2 separate regions of the Homo sapiens genome follow, and region 1 is linked to region 2. Evidence: fine-mapped expression QTL. A gene starts in region 2. The other region holds a variant in brackets. All regions are shown on one strand. Distances are from middle to middle.

Region 1 (5,365 bases), 34 kb after region 2:
CATTTATATGAAGTTCTGAAATATGCAAAACTGATTAACAGTGATAAAAATCAGAAGAGTAGTGGCCTCTACTATGTCAGCAGGAGGTGGGGAGAGACTGCAAAGGGGCATGAAAGAACTTTCTGGAAGGATTGAAATGTTCTGTGCCCTGATGACAGTGGTGCAGATTACATGTCCATATATTGATCAGAATGATCAAATTGTACGTTTAAGTTTTGAGGGCTCGGTGCCGTGGCTCATGCCTGTAATCACAACACTTTGAGAGGCCAAGGCAGGTGGATCACTTGAGGTTGGAGTTCGAGACCAGCCTGGCCAACATGGTGAAACCCCGTCTCTACTAAAAATACAAAAATTAGCCAGGCATGGTGGTGCATGCCTGTAATCCCAGCTCCTCAGAAGGCTGAAGCAGGAGAGTCGCCTGAACGTGGGAGGCGGAGGTTGCAGTGAGCCGAGATCGCGCCACTGGACTCCAGCCTGGGTGATGGAGCAAGACCCTGTCTCAAAGGAAAAAAAAAAAAAAGATTTGTACACTTTACTATGTGTAAGTGATATTTGGATGTGTGACCCCTCCAAATCTCATGTTGAAATGTGATCCCCGATGATGGAGGGGGGCCTGGTGGGAGGTGATTGGGTCATGGGGGTTGATCCCTCATGAATGGCTTGGTGTCCTCCCCATGGTCATGCGTGAGTTCTTGCCCTCTTAGCTCACGTGACAGCTGGTTGCTTAAAGAGCCTGGCACCTCCCCCTCTCTCTGTCTTACTCCTGCTCTTGCCATGGGACACGCCTGCTATCCCTTCACTTCCTGCTATGAGTAAAAGATTCCTGAGGTCTCTTCACCAAAAGCCAAGCAGATGCTGGTGCTGTGCTTGTACAGCCTGAAGAACCATGAGCCAAAGAATTCTCTTTTCCTTATAAATTACTGTCTCAAGTATTCTTTTATGGCAATGCAAAATGAACTAACACAGTAAATTATAACTCAATACAAAACAAGAACATTGAAAACAAATAGGCAGTTCTGTCCTGGGTGGTGATGATTTTCTGATCCCTGGATCTCAGACAGAGCAGCCAGATGCTGAAGCTGACGTGTACAATGGGGGCTCCTGATTAGGGTGGAGGGAGAAGCTCCTTGGGCAAGTCAGTCTGCTCATGTTGTGGAATCATTTGCAGTCTTCACTTAGAGCGCACTCCACCAGCCTTTCCAAAGAGCTTGTCAACCTCTAATTCCTTATGCCAAGCCAGACCAATTTTGCTTAAAATTGACAGTCACAAATAATCTCAAAATCTCGTGGCTTACAACAAAGGTTTGTTTCTCGCTCTCACTACATGTCCCTCACGGTTCAGCTAGGAGCTAGGATGGGACCCAAGATGATGGGGAAGCCTGGGCTGGGCGCAGTGGCTCACACCTGTAATCCCAGCACTTTGGGAGGCCGAGGCAGGCAGATCGCTTGATCTCAGGAGTTTGAGACCAACCTGGCCAATATGGTGAAACCTTGTCTCTACAAAAAATACAAAAATTAGGCCAAGTGCAGTGGCTTACACCTGTAATCCCAGCACTTTGGGAGGCCGAGGCAGGCGGATTACCTGAGGTCAGGAGTTTGAGACCAGCCTGGCCAACATGTCAAAACCCCATCTCTACTAAAAATAGAAAGATTAGCCAGGCATGGCGGTGCATGCCTGTAATCCCAGCTACTCAGGAGGCTGAGGCAGGAGAATCACTTGAACCTGAGAGGCGGAGGTTGCAGTGAGCCGAGATCAAGCCACTGCACTCCAGCCTGGGTGACAGAGTGACAGAGTGACACTCCGTCTCAAAAACTAAATAAAAATAAGCTGGGCATGGTGGCTTGCGCCTGTGGTCCCAGCTATTTGAGGGGTGAGGTGGGGGGATCGCTTGAGCCCAAGAGATGGAGGTTGCAGTGAGCTGAGATCACGCCACTGCACTCCAGAGTGAGACCCTGTCTAAAAGAAAAGAAAATAAAAGAAAAGAAATGTTTCTGGTTATCATAGCAGGCAGAAGGCAGAACAAGGAACAAGGTGAGACACACACTGGCTCTTATAGCCTCTGTCAGGAAGGGACACACCTCATTTCTGCTCACATTGTCATTATCGAAAGCAAATCACACGGGCACATTTGAGTTCAACAGCACAGAACATTACAATCTTCTTATAGGAAGGTATATTAATCCGTTTTCATGCTGCTGATAAAGACATATCTGAGATTGGGAAACTTACAAAAGAAAGAACTTTATTGGATTTACAGTTCCACGTGGCTGGGGAGGCCTCAATCATGGCAGAAGGTGAAAGGCACGTCTCACATGGTGGCAGACAAGAGAAGAGAGCTTGTGCAGGGAAACTCCCCTTTTTAAAACCCTCAGACCTCATGAGACTCATTCACCATCACAAGACCAGCAAGAGAAAGACCTGCCCTTATGATTCAACCACCTTCCACTGGGCCCCTCCCACAATATGTGAAAATTCAAGATAAGATTTGGGTGGGGGCACAGCCAAACCACATCAGAAGGGAACTGGGTATTGATGGGCAGTAATATTGTTTACTGCAAAGGACATTTATTATCTCACATAGCAAGAGTTCTAGAGGCAGAAACTGTATTCAGCTTCAGGAGACAGCCAGAAACAACGACTTAAACAGGTTATTTATTCCTCTCTCACATAGCAGAACTCTGAAGTACATAGTGCAAGGCTGGGAAAGAGGATCCCTAATATCATAAGGGACCAGACTTGCTGCTCTGCCACCCTAAGCATGTGGCCTGAAGCCTCAAGATCACAAAATAGCTGCAGAAGCCTCAGCCATCATGCCACATTCCAGGAAAAAAATCAAGAAGGGGAAAAAAAAGTGAGAAAGGAAAGGCACCACTAGGTGATTCAGCTCCTTTTAAAG[G/A]GACTTCCCAAGACTCCCTCCCAAAGATTTCTACTTCCTTCGGATTGCTACCTCTAATTGCAAAGGACACAGAAATGTGGTCTTTTAGCTGAGTCCGTGACACCCCAAATACCATCAAGGAAAATAATTGCCCTCAGGAATTTGTTGATTAGGATGCTGAGAAGGATGGGGAGCTGCCACCAAGTCAGGAGATGGAGCCTCAAGTCATTTTTACTCCAATGTAAAAGGAAAAGATAACTGTTAAGACTGGGGGTTGGCCAGGCACAGTGGCTCACACCTGTAATCTCAACACTTTGGGAGGCCAAGGCAGGTGGATCACCTGAGGTCAGGAGTTCGAAACCAGCCTGGCCAACAGGGTGAAATCCCATCTCTACTAAAAATACAAAAATTAGCCAGGCATGTGACACATGCCTGTAATCCCAGCTACTCGGGAGGCTGAGGCAAGAGAATCACTTGAACCTAGGAGGCGGAGGTTGCAGTGAGCCAAGATTGCACCATTGCACTCCAGCCTGGGTGACAAGAGTGAGACGTCATCTCAAAAAAAAAAAAAAAACTGGTCGTTTTTGAAACTTCCAGAGGACAGCAGCACTGATTCTCAGACTTGATAGAGACTTCCAGACATCACTTCAACAGCGCCTCCAATGCTCTCCAATGCTACCCAATCCCTTTCTGGCAAAAGACATCTTTTTCTGTGGCATCATGGTCTGAAGTGAAGCCTCCTCCTCCTCCACCCTTACATCAGGGGAGATATCTTGCCAGGAGCTAATGGAGTGGATGTTGTAATTCAGCTAGCCTCCTGAGTACAATTCTGTCAAGGTTCTTGTTTTGAAATTGAGGCCAGATCACATTAACTGGAAGGAATCTGCCTTTTCTCATCTGACACTAGATTGTGCTTTTCTTGGAGGTGTTGAGGATGACCTCCAATGATTGCTTCGGTAAAGTCTGTTGGCTTCTCAAGAAGTTATTGAGTCAAGGACTCCAGCTGCTGATGGTGGGAGGTTAAACAGGGTTTGAAACATCGCCTGAGGTGGCTTTGTAATGTATCACCTTGGCCAGGTTAAACTACACTTCCCAGAATCTTTTTCCCTAGATGCCTGTGTTTTCTGGTTAGGGTGAACCACAAGAGACATTCTTGTCAGGGATCTGCTGGGTAGAGGTGAAGCCACGGACATTTCGCAGCTTATACCAGTTGTCACTTATCAGACAGCTCATCTCATTGGCATAAGGCAGCAACCAGGGCTGCAACTGTTTCACCTTCCGCTGGATCCTCCTTCAGCTTCCCCAGTTGTTGGGCCAGACATGTGTGCTCAGCCCCGTGATGAAGGACCATGACTCTAGCAAGACACCCACAGCACCAAGGTCATAGACAACAAGAATTAGCATGGGGCTGGGTGCAGTGGCTCATGCCTGTAATTCCAGCACTCTGGGAGGCCGAGGCGGGTGGATCACTTGAGGTCAGGAGTTCGAGACCAGCCTGGTCAACATGGTGAAACTCCATCTTTACTAAAAATACAAAAATTACCCAGGCGTGATGTTGCATGCCTGCAATCCCAGCTACTCGGGAGGCTGAGGCAAGAGAATCTCTTCAACCTGGGAAGCAGAGGTTGCAGTGAGCAGAGATCACACCACTGCACTCCAGCCTGGTCGACCGAGTGAAACTCTGTCTCAAAAAGAAAAACAAAAAGAAAGAAAGAAAGAAAAAAAAGAAGAGAAAAGAAAAAGAAAAAGAATTAACATAGGATTCAGTCCATCCTTGTGGACTCCAGCTTGTGCTTGTGGGTTCTAACTTGTTCCGTGCTCTCCCCAATCTTACCTCAATCTTCCCTTCCTGACTTCCTGCACCTGTGGGTTTCAAGTTCCAGCATCAAGACAACAGCCCTACAAAGAGAGCTTCACTAGCAACTACAATTGTTGAAGGTCAAATTCGTGTAGCAAACTGTGTGTGTGTACGCCCACATATGTATTAAAGGTTCAGCTTTGCTGATACAGAATTTGGTACTAAGAGTGGTTCCAGAAGGCCAGAATCTTAACAATGAGATCTGGTTTTTCTTTCTCTTTTTTTTTTTTTTTTGAGATGGAGTCTCACTCTGTCACCCAGGCTGGAGTGTGGTGGCGTGATCTTGGTTTACTGCAAGTTCCGCCTCCCGGGTTCACGCCATTCTCCTGCCTCAGCCTCCCCAGCAGCTGGGACTACAGGCGCCTGCCACAACGCCCAGCTAATTTTATTGTACTTTTAGTAGAGACGGGGTTTCACCGTATTAGCCAAGATGGTCTCAATCTCTTGACCTTGTGATCCACCTGCCTCGGCCTTCCAAAGTGCTGGGATTACAGGCGTGAGCCACCGCGCCCGGCCGAGATCTGGTTTTTCTAGAATTGGTTCTCTAATTAAATTGAAAGCCATTAATGACCTTGTTTTCAGTAATGAAGGGTACACTGATAGGTCATAGCATGGAGTGGCAAGGCAGTCA
Region 2 (5,365 bases):
CCCTCCTGTCTTCCCTGCCCTCACCTTCCCTGCTCTGCTGCTCACAGACTACCAGTCCCTGCAGATCGGAGGCCTCGTCATCGCCGGGATCCTCTTCATCCTGGGCATCCTCATCGTGCTGAGTGAGTGCCCCTAGCTCCCGCCCTCTACCCCGCCTCTCCCTGGCCCCACCTCTCTCTGGCCCCGCCTCTCCCTGGCCCCGCCTCTCCCTAGCCCCCCTCTCCCTGGCCCCGCTTCTCCCTGGTCCCGCCCCTCCCTGGCCCCGCCCCGCCCCAACCCCTCCCAGGCCTTGCCCCGCCTACCCTGCCTTGGTTCCCCGGCCCCCGGTCTCGCCTCTAGCCCCGCCCCGTCCCCCAAGCCCCGCCCCTCGCGAGGGCGAGCTGGAGCTACAGCGCCGCTTGGCGCCCGCCGGGAGGGAGCCTCAGCTTCTCCTACCTCTCCACGCCCACAGGCAGAAGATGCCGGTGCAAGTTCAACCAGCAGCAGAGGTAAGACGCCCCTCCCCGCCCTCCTTCGCCCGCTCCTGCTCTGGAGGGCGCCGCGGGTGAGGCGGGGAGTACCCCTGACCCGCAGCCCGATCCCCGTCAGCGACTATGTATTAAGCACCTACTATGTGCCATGGCCCAAGCCTGGCCCTGGGACCAAGCGAGGAAAAAACCTCCCGCCCTTCCTGGCCGAGCTCCCAGCCTAGTGGAGGCGGTGGCCGTGGGTTCCAACAGCCCCACAGATAGAAAAATCACAAAGCGTGATAACACAAAGTGCAGGAAAGAAGAAACGGCGGTGAAATGAGATCATCTCACACGCGGCCCAGTTTAGCTTAGAGTCTTGTTCCTAGCTCTTTGATTCCTCTTCGAATAAAATGTTAAAGCATGGACAATGTATGAATATGTTAGAACAATTATAGATATTATCATAAGTAGTAGCTAATATTTACTGGGTGTGTACCACGTGTTAGATACGGTTTCACTTCCTCTGGGAGGGAGGTGCTGTTATTAACCCCATTTGACAGATGAGGAAACTAAGGCACAGGGAGGTAAAGTCACTTTGTTCAAGATCACTCAAGTGGAAGATGGGGGGTTCTGGGTTTCCAACCCAGGCCATCTCATGGCAGTCTGCCAAGTCCCCATGACTATCCCTCCCCCACCAACTTCACATCCCTGCCCCCAAATCCGCGGAGGTACTCACTGTTAACCAGCTTAGAAGCCCCCTGCCAGCACATAAGCTGCTCCTGGGTGCTCCTCATTTCTGGCGGACCCCGAGCCTGCTCTTCGTCCATATCTGGGCCTAGTTACACCAATCTGGGAAAGGAGGCTTGTACTGGGGGGTTCCTAGAAGGGCAGCCTCTCCCCCTTTCCATCCCGAAATCCCTCTGCCTCTGTCTTCCCAGGACTGGGGAACCCGATGAAGAGGAGGGAACTTTCCGCAGCTCCATCCGCCGTGAGTCTGGGGAGACTGCGGGTATTCTGGGGAGAGGGCTGGTTCCAAGGACCGCTTTTCCCGGCCCTCCCTGGCTGCGTAGAGGGAAGGGCTGGATCTGAAAGCGGAGGGCGGGGAGTTGCCCCGCCGCGGGCCCCACCTGCCCAGGAGCTGGGGATGCCTCTCCAGAATGACCCCCGATCTCCGTGTTCCCCCCAGGTCTGTCCACCCGCAGGCGGTAGAAACACCTGGAGCGATGGAATCCGGCCAGGTGCTGCAGCTCTGACACGGCGGTGGGAGGGAAGGAGGGAGGAAGGAAAGGCGGGAGAGGGAGGGGGCCAAGTGCCAGAGTTGAAGGGCGGCGAGGGGTGGGGCTGGACGTCCCCCCTCGCCTCTCACCCTTTTCACCCTCACAGGACTCCCCTGGCACCTGACATCTCCCACGCTCCACCTGCGCGCCCACCGCCCCCTCCGCCGCCCCTTCCCCAGCCCTGCCCCCGCAGACTCCCCCTGCCGCCAAGACTTCCAATAAAACGTGCGTTCCTCTCGACAGCACTTTGTCGGTCTCGGTCCCTCAGCGCGAAACGCCAGCGCCACTGGGCCCCAGCAGGGGGCGCCCCACCCTAGAGGAAGGGGCGGGGACGACGGTGGTGGGCGGGGGCGGGGGCGGGGGTGGCCTGCACGGGGGCGGGCTCCCCGGGCCCCCATTGGCTGCAGGCCCCCCCACGCCAGGGCTCCCCCCAGCTCCCCCCCACATCGGTCCGTCCTGCTTCCAGCTGCTGCAGCGCGCCTTCGCCGCCAAAGCATCCAGCAGCCCCCTGCTCCGGCCCAGCATGGCGACCCCGACCCAGACCCCCACAAAGGGTGAGCGTCGTTTGGGGAGGGGGTTGCAGGGGGGCTCCGGGATCTGAGAGCCTAGGAGAGAGGGTGTCGGGAGATTCAAGCAATGGTAAGGCAAGGGAGTTGGGGGAGGGAGGTCCGCTCCTCCTGTGGGCGGAAGCCCCTGTAATGCGCCCCCCCGATCGCCCCTCCGGGTCTCTGGGACACCCCCTCCCCGGCAGGCGTCCTGTGCCAGACCTGCGGTTGGAGAGTGGCAGTCCCGGGAGAAGGGATGCTCGGACAGGTCGCTATGGCAACCGGGTGGCTGGTCCCGCACCGTGGTGGTAGCAGACGGGGAAGAGATGAGCTTGCAGGGTGGGAGCGGGTGGGTCTGCGACCAGAGACGTTCTGGAAGATTTCAGGGTCCCTGGGGTGGGCAAGGGAAGGGGAGGAGGTTCATGTCCCTCTTCTTTCCAGTGCTGTCTCCTAGGGTGTCTGTTTCCTGAAACCCTTGACAGCCAGGTTCAGAGGAAAGGAGTGAGAGCTGAAGGAAGAGACAGAGAGAAGGGATATAGCAAGAGACAGACAGGGAGAACCTGGAAGAGACAGAGACCAAGAGAGGCAGGAGATCCAGAGTCACAGATACAAAGACCCAGGAAGACAAATAGATGGACTCAGAGAGATTCCCAGTGGAGGGGAGAGGCTGAGAGCAGTAGACAGAGATGCAGAGAGAGAGAGAAAAAAAAATGAGAGCCTGGGAGATAGTGGGATTGAGACCGCTATGGAGAGAGAAGCAGAGAGACGGAGGGAGAGAGACGGACCCATGGGGAGAGAGGGGAGTAGAAAGAGAAGAAGGGAGCCATGTGGGGTGGGGCCCAAACCACTGCAGTGAGACCCTATGTGTGGGAATGGGGCGATGGGACCCTCCTTCCAGCCCACAGCAGGGGTGTTTTCCAATCCCAGAGGTGCTGTTGGGTATACACCTAGCTGCCCCTACTGCCCCCATCCAGCCACACACTGATTTCCATTCCACACCAATTAACCCAGTTATGCACCCACTTAAACACCCACTTCTACCGTCGCCCCCTAATAGCCCCCACTGCTAATCCTGCTTCTGCAGATGAGCAAGGCACAGACTGCTTCAAGAGGGAGCCAGTGCCCAGCAAGGGTCTCCAGCACTGAGGGCAGGGGACCAGGGGTGCTGAGAAGCCCCTGGCAGTGAAGGGAACCCGAATTCCACTTGGATGGCTCCCTCCCTTCCGCGCTTCCCAGCAGGCGGGGGCTGCTGCACTGAGCCATATCTGCAGAATCCGAAGCAGGGCGGGGGGTGGGGGGGGCTGCAGAGGCTGGAAGCTACCCTAGGGAGGGGGGCAGGGCTGAGGCAGCAGGCCTGGCGGGAGCCCAGGGCTTCTTTTTGCAGAGGTGGTGGTTAGCAGGATCGATGGCAGCAGACGGGCAGAGGTGGGAGGACAGACTCCTCAACCCAACCTCCTCTGCCTCCCCCTTTCCCAGTCACAGCATGACAGGGGACCGCAGGTCTCGGGAAACCCCGGGGGAGGAAAAGCATGTTGTGCATTGCAAGCTGCTTAAGGAAACTAATTAATGAATTGTTGGGGAGCGAGGGGGGAAGAGGGGAGAGTCTCCCTCCACCCTGCCAGAGAACAGGAGGGAGAGTTAGGAGTGAACAGAAGAGGGATGCATGAGCACAGCTGGGTCCGGGTCCCTATCCCTGAAATGGACCCTTAGCTTGGCCAGAAGCCAGTCCTGCAGGGGCAACGGCAGGAGGTGCAAAAGGAGGGGAGAGGGTCAAGATTGAAACCTGCATCTCACACAGGACCTCACAGGGGACCCCACCCAGCCTGGGGTGGCGGGACCTATCACCTCTCTTCACCTCCCAAGATGCCCCAGTTGCCATAGCAACCACCTCCTTCCTGATATCTCTTTGGCAGCTGGCCAGGAGTAGTGCACATTCCTTTGCCTGACTCCTGGCCCCACCCTTAGCCCAGCCACGCCTGAGGGCCCAGGTTGCCGGGGCAGCAGGGACCAGAGGAGGATCTTCCGCATGGAGGAGGATCTTCCACATGGAACACCAGATTCTGGGACAGGGGCTCACCCAGTGGGCTCCCGATAACTTTGGGGAAGGACGGGTGTGTGGAAAACAGACAAGTGAGACAATCCACCTTTTACAGCCTCCTGCAGCCTAGGACTGCCTCATAATCATTCCTTCATTCATTCATCCCAGAAAACTTGAAGAGCCTTTCATAAATGTCAGGATGAACAGCAGTGATGAGTCAAACAAATTTACTCTCTGGTGGGGAAACTTACACAGAGCACAAGGGACCCTGAAGCAGCGTCTCACCATCTTGGCGCTTTTGAGTACTACCGTCACAATTTTTGCTTTATTCAAATATTCCTCACACTGCTATTTATTTAATTTTTTTCCTTAAAAGGATTAGCTTTTTTATTTTTATTTTTTGAGACAAGGTCTCACTCTGTCGCCTAGGCTGGAGTGCAATGGCACGATCACAGCTCACTGCAGCCTCAACATCCTGGGCTCAATCTATCCTCCTGCCTCAGCCTCCCAAGTAGCTGGGACTACAAGGCACTTCTGCTACACCCAGCTAATTTTTGTATTTTTCATAGAGACTGCTTTTGCTATGTTTCCCAGCCTGGTCTCAAACTTCTGGGCTCAAGCAATTCACCCACTTTGGCTTCCCAAAGTGCTTAGGATGACAGGCGTGGGCCACCATGCCCAACCCAGGATTAGCTTTTGAAAACAACGAGCTTTATTTTATAGCACCATCACAACTGGAAAATTAATCTTCTTTTTTTTTTTGAGACAGAGTCTCGCTCTGTCATCCAGGCTGGAGTGCAGTGGCACGATCTTGGCTTACTGCAACCTCTGCCTCCCGGGTTCAAGCAATTCTTCTGCCTCAGCCTCCCAAGTAGCTGGGACTAGCAGCGGCACACCACCACACCCAGCTAATTTTTGTATTGTTAGTACAGATGGGGTTTCACCATATTGGCCAGGCTGGTCTCAAACTCCTGACCTCGTGATCCGCCCACCTTGTATTCCCAAAGTGCTGGGATTACAGGCATGAATCACTGTGCCCAGCTGGAAAATTCATCT

Evidence for each region. PIP is the estimated chance that this variant, and not a neighbour inherited with it, causes the effect.
Region 1: its variant is fine-mapped to the expression of FXYD7 in whole blood (INTERVAL, PIP above 0.99).

What each region holds. Positions count from the first base shown.
Region 1 is chr19:35,175,271-35,180,635 of GRCh38, forward strand. No RefSeq gene overlaps it. Among named protein-coding and RNA genes, the nearest start is that of FXYD5, 23 kb to the left of the region's middle. RefSeq lists a silencer at 581-737. The variant G/A (reference allele first, on the strand shown) is at 2,898.
Region 2 is chr19:35,141,085-35,146,449 of GRCh38, forward strand. FXYD7 (FXYD domain containing ion transport regulator 7) reads left to right here and starts at 2,171. Exons shown (of 6, transcript NM_022006.2): 1 at 2,171-2,280. The coding sequence starts at 2,250. FXYD1 (FXYD domain containing ion transport regulator 1) reads left to right here. Exons shown (of 8, transcript NM_021902.4): 4 at 48-122; 5 at 452-488; 6 at 1,388-1,437; 7 at 1,636-1,687; 8 at 1,833-2,025. The coding sequence ends at 1,658. RefSeq lists silencers at 52-181, 292-511 and enhancers at 146-708, 1,832-2,392, 2,393-2,954.